Linked DNA regions of Homo sapiens: region 2 is linked to region 1. The links come from fine-mapping of genetic effects on plasma protein levels. Region 1 holds a variant in brackets. A gene starts in the other region. All regions are shown on their forward strands. Region 1 overlaps DNM3 (dynamin 3). Region 2 holds the start of ZNRF4 (zinc and ring finger 4).

Evidence for each region. A credible set is the group of variants that fine-mapping cannot tell apart. PIP is the chance, under the fine-mapping model, that this variant and not a neighbour inherited with it causes the effect. The UK Biobank Pharma Proteomics Project read protein levels with antibody pairs (Olink). The fine-mapping took linkage between variants from a reference panel, not from the people measured, so its PIPs are less certain.
Region 2: ZNRF4 starts here. The variant in region 1 is the best candidate, but not a certain one, in a credible set for the plasma level of the ZNRF4 protein (UK Biobank, PIP 0.70).

The regions. Positions count from the first base shown.
Region 1 is chr1:171,958,546-171,961,458 of GRCh38, forward strand. The region is part of intron 2 of DNM3 (dynamin 3); the gene reads left to right. Among named protein-coding and RNA genes, the nearest start is that of DNM3-IT1, 96 kb to the left of the region's middle. The variant A/G (reference allele first, on the strand shown) is at 1,766.
Region 2 is chr19:5,454,250-5,457,162 of GRCh38, forward strand. ZNRF4 (zinc and ring finger 4) reads left to right here and starts at 1,168. Exons shown (of 1, transcript NM_181710.4): 1 at 1,168-2,607. The coding sequence starts at 1,243. The coding sequence ends at 2,532.

The DNA of each region.
Region 1 (2,913 bases):
ACAAGGAGCTCGTGGACAAAGGGAATCCATCAAAGGTGTTGGAGCAAGGGGATGGTATAGTCAGCTTTACATGCTGAGTGGATTGCTGTGATTACAATGGGCAGGATAGATGGAACATGGCAAGATTTGGGGTGTGACTGTGGAGTAAGCTGTCCAGATGAGAGGTGATAGAACTACCCTCACTTGGCCTTGGTGATAGTGATTTGGGGAGGGGGAGATCAATAAATTTTTAGAAAGTAATGTCAGATAGATATACCTATCTTATATATCTTTTGTTACATTCGTTTCTAAGTACCACATAGTTTCTGCTAATGTTGCAAATCATATTTCTAAAAAATTATGGTTTTGAATTAATTCTCATGGTTGAATATTATGTAGCAGTAAAACTATTGAACTGCAGCCATGTGCATCAACAGTAATAAGTCTAGGAGCATAATCTTGAGTGAATAAAGCAAGTCCCAAATGAATGACTTCATTTGTATAAAGCTTAAAAACAAAACTGAAAAATGTGTTGGTTAGAGATGCACAGGTATGTAATAAACCAATATGGAAAAGGAGATAATAAAATAAAATTAAAAATCATGGTTAATTCTCATGGAGGAGAAGGTGAGAGAATGAATACAGAAGGGGGAAGTATATGGGTGAATGGAATGGTATTGGACAGTTTTGATTCTTATATTAGTGGTGGGTTCATGGGTGCTGGTTTTATTATTATTTTTCATTATATATATATGTCAAATGTAGTATTTTGTATTATTTGATATATTAAAAAGATAATAAGGGAAAAACAGATACATAAGTAGAAATAAGGGCAAGATATCCTCAGGTTTCTAGCTTGGGTTACGGGATCAGTGATGATATCAAATAAATAGAGACAACTAGAGGTTTATTCAGGAACAATGATGAGCTAAGGTTCTTGAAGCACATCTAAACAGATGGATATGCAAGCCTGCAGCTTGTGGGGGAAAATCTAGGCTACATATGCAGATTTGTAAGTCATAAATATACAGTTGTCTTTCAAACCAAAAAATGGATAAAATTGCCCCGGAAGAATTAAAAACAACAACAACAAAAGTGAAAAGAAAGTAATCCTGGGAAGCACCAGCATTGAAGTGTCAGGAGACAGAGAAGTCCATAAAGAGAAGGAAGGGGTCAAAAGATAGGAGGAAAAGTGAGTGGCATCAGGGAGGAAGCCAAGGAGGTAAAGTGTTATGAAGGGAGGGGTGATTATCAGTGTTAGATACACCAGGCCATTTACTACGGTGAGGTCTGGAGTTAGGAGGTTTGTGCTGACCTTAGCGAACTCTGTTTCAGAGCTGTGGGGACAGAAGCCAACTGAAGTGGGGAGAGGGGTCTGGGGAGCCAGACAGCGGGTACTGTGGAGGGGGTAGAGGAATCTTTGTAGAAATATGAGTGTTCTGGGGTGAATAGTGCCCTCCCAAAATTCAAGTTCTTTCTCCTGGAACCTCAGTATAGGACTCTATTCAAAAATAGGATCTTTGCAAATGTAATTGGGTTAAAATCAGGAATGAAGACTGGATTAGGATGGGTTCAAATCCAATGACTGCTGAACTTATAAAATGAGAAAAATTTGGACACAGACACACTGAGAGAACACAATGTGATAAGAGGCAGAGACTGGAGTAGTGCATCCATAAGCCAAGCCATTGCTGACAACCACCTGAGGCTAAGAATGACATGGAACAGATGCTTCCCTAGAGCCTTTAGATGGCCCTGCCAACACTTCAACTTAGGCTTCTAGGCT[A/G]TAGGACTGTGAAATAATAAAATTTATGTTGTTTAAAGTTACCCCATTTGGCATACTTTGTTATAGCAGCCCCAGGAAACAAATATAATGAATGATAACTAGTGTGTGATTAGGTAAAGAGAGGGCTCCACTTTTTATAGGATGGATGAGACTTAGTACATTTGCAGAACAAGAGAAAGTGGCAGTGTTGAAAGGTGCGGACTTTAAGAGGTGATTGGATCTTGAAGGCTCTGCCATCATGAATGGATTAATACCTTCGTGGGTTAGTGGATTAATGGGTTAATTAATGGGTTATTATGAGGGTGGAACTGATGATTTCATAAGAAGAGGAAGAGAAACCTGAGCAGATACATTAGGAGAGCAGTAAAGGATAAAGATAAGGGAGAAATAGGGAATGCTTGGTGGAGCACAATCCTGGCAGTCCCAAGAGCCATGAGCTCAGGGGCCCAGGCAGAGTTCATCGGTTTTAAAATGAAAACAGTGTACTCTGTGACTGGAAGAAAAAAAGCAGGATGGGGTGAGGTGGTAGTTAGATTGTAGGTAAGAGAGCAGGAAGTAAGGAAGTGCATCCTTGATGACTTCATTTTTCTTAGAGATAAGTTCTTCTGCTGAGGATGAGGGTAAGGGAGGCAGTTGAGTTGGAAGTAGTAGTGGAAGTTTGGAATAGTTGTTCAAGACCAGAAGGCTGACCAGAGACTACCTATAATTGACAGTTGGCATCCAGGTCTCAGCTGAGTTTGGAAACCATTGATTTGTATTAAAGATGCACTACACTGTTCTGAGATGTTTCCAGACAGCGCTCAGATTCCTGAGGTTTACAGCAGGAAAAGTGGCTCCTAGAGTTGGGATTTTATAAGATGGATGCGATGGAGGGATGTTGGTACAAGGAAGAAGAGAAGAGGATGTTGGTGAGACAATGAGCTCATGACCAGCAGTGCACTCCAGCCTGGGTAGAAAGGAAGAGGTAGAGGGCGGAAGGACATGAAAGACTTTATGGTGACAGTGACAAGAGCAGCCATGAGGTCAGCTAGAAACATACTTTTAATCCATGTGTTTTTGACAAGGTATGGCCATTGTCATCTGTGAACATTTAATATCCCATACTGTACTCAGAACTAAAGTACAATAGAAAATAATAAGTGCTGATG
Region 2 (2,913 bases), not on the chromosome of region 1:
AGCCTGGCAAAGTGAAGTTGAGGAGCAAGAATTCTGTTCCAGGCAGAGGGAACAGCATTTGCAAAATTCTAGAGGTGAACAAAGCAAGATGCCTCTGGGACATTGCAAATCATCCAGGCTTCAGAGATTGGCAGGCGCCCAACCACAGGGGTGCATGTAGGCCACAGAGAAGAGTGTGGGCTTTATCTGGAGGGCAATGGGGAGCCATGGGAGAGTTTAGAGCATGGGAAAGACTATGTTACAGGTCTGGAAGCTGAGGCCCAGAGAGGCTAAGGAATTTAGCTGATGTCATACAGCTTATGAATGGCAGAGACAGAAATCCGACTTGAGTGGGCTGCAGACAGATTGAGGGTGTGAAATTTGGGGGATGGGGACTGGGGAGGAGGTGAGGCTGATGCCCAGGGCTGAAGCTCAGGCAGGGGGCACAGTTGGAGACCCAGCTGGAGAGGCAATGCTATAGGGAGAGAGAATGAAGCTGGTGCAAGCCTGGAGGCCAACCTGGCGGTGCGGACTTGGGACCACTGACCCCCACCAGCCCCACCCTGACCCTGGCACTTGACTCTCCCTCCAAATCAAGTCCAGGAGGGCTCTGAGGATATATGGACTCAGACCTGAGTCCGGATAAAAGAGCCAGCTACGGAGAGAAAGGGCTTTCCAGGCAGGAGGCCCAGCCCATGCAAAGGCCCTGGGGCAGGATCCTGCCTGGTGTGTTGGAGGAACAGCAAGGAGATCTGTGTGGCTGGAGCAGAGTGAGGGATGGTGACAGGGGGTCAGGAATTTGGGTTTTAAGCACTGATCTCATTGTAGGGGGGCGTGGCTTGAACAAGTCTGGGTCACTCTTGGAGTCTCAGACAAGGGTAACATTGAACCTTCTACAGTGTGTTGCTAGGAACCTCCAGAAGCTGATGCTGGTAGCGTCTTCGCACAGTGAGGGCTGAATCTGCACTGCTGGGGGCCGGCAGCCCTTTTGAAGCATCCCTGGGCCTCCTTGGGTCCAAAGATACCCTGAGCCTTCAAGAAGTTATCTCAAAGCTTGCCCGGGTACCGGCAAATCACAGACCTAGGAATGATCCATTGGCCACAGGCCCAGGCAGCTGGCAGCTCCTGGGACAGAATGTAGCAGGGCGATGTCACAGAAGCTGGGGGCATCTAGAACCCTGGTGACTCCTGGTCTCCATGTCATCTGCCAGAAAGGCCACCTGCGCCAGCACCTCCTGAGACCGGCCTTCAAAGACACGACGCATGCCGCTCTGCCGTCCGGAGCACTTAATGCCTAGAGCCAGCAGGGTCCCAGTGGCCGCGTCACTGCCTCTGAGCCACGCGGTCATTCCAACTCAACTGCCCTCGCGTCCTGGCCACAGGCCCCCTGGGAGACCCCGGAGATGCCCAAAGGCCTCATGCCTGCCGCCTCCAGTGGGACCTAGCAGCACACAGACAGCGAAGCGGGTGACCATGGGGTGGCCACGGCCGGGCCGAGCCCTCGTGGCAGTCAAAGCCTTGCTGGTCTTGTCGCTGCTCCAGGTGCCCGCGCAGGCAGTGGTACGGGCCGTGCTGGAAGACAACTCGAGCTCGGTGGACTTTGCGGATCTGCCGGCGCTGTTCGGCGTCCCCCTGGCCCCCGAGGGCATACGGGGCTACCTGATGGAGGTCAAGCCAGCCAACGCGTGCCATCCCATCGAGGCCCCGCGACTGGGCAACCGCTCTCTGGGCGCCATCGTGCTGATCCGCCGCTACGACTGCACCTTCGACCTCAAGGTGCTGAACGCCCAGCGCGCCGGCTTCGAGGCGGCCATCGTGCACAACGTCCACTCCGACGACCTCGTGAGCATGACCCACGTCTACGAGGACTTGAGGGGCCAGATCGCCATCCCCTCAGTGTTCGTGAGCGAGGCCGCCTCGCAGGACCTGCGGGTCATCCTGGGCTGCAACAAGTCGGCCCACGCGCTGCTCCTGCCCGACGACCCACCGTGCCACGACCTGGGCTGTCACCCCGTGCTGACCGTGTCCTGGGTGCTGGGCTGTACCCTGGCCCTGGTCGTATCAGCCTTCTTTGTCCTGAACCACCTGTGGCTCTGGGCCCAGGCCTGCTGCAGCCACAGACGGCCGGTGAAGACGTCTACCTGCCAGAAGGCCCAGGTCCGCACCTTCACGTGGCACAACGACCTGTGTGCCATCTGCCTGGATGAGTATGAGGAGGGCGACCAACTCAAGATCCTGCCCTGCTCCCACACCTACCACTGCAAATGCATTGACCCCTGGTTCTCCCAAGCCCCCCGGCGCTCCTGCCCCGTGTGCAAACAGTCGGTGGCCGCCACAGAAGACAGCTTTGACTCCACCACCTACAGCTTCAGGGACGAGGACCCCTCCCTACCGGGCCACCGGCCCCCCATCTGGGCCATTCAAGTCCAGCTACGCTCCCGGAGGCTGGAGCTGCTGGGCCGCGCCAGTCCCCACTGCCACTGCAGCACCACGTCCCTGGAGGCAGAGTATACCACTGTCTCCTCAGCCCCTCCTGAGGCCCCTGGTCAGTAAAGATCTAGGGCAGGGAGGGGGGTGCAATGAGGAATGTTTCTGGTCTGAAAAGAATAAAGTGGGTTTGAAAGCGGATTCTCAGCCTCGCTGCTGTTGGGCCACCCGCCTCTGACTGGGGTTGGGGGACACCCATCCCCATCAAGCCTAAGGCCAATCCCCGTTTCTGCGGGCGGGAGAGCGAGGGGTGGTGAGGGCTGGGGGGCCTTTTTGGGGCGGCTGTGACCGTGGTGCCGGAGTGGCTTTGAGACGGGTCGTCTGTGCTTTGGTTCCAGTCCCGGGCACACGGGTCACTCATCCTGGATGGCCTTATTCTTCATTCACATTTTTTCTTTTAAAATAAACGTTTTATTTTGGAACTGGTTTAGATTTCCAGAAAAGTTG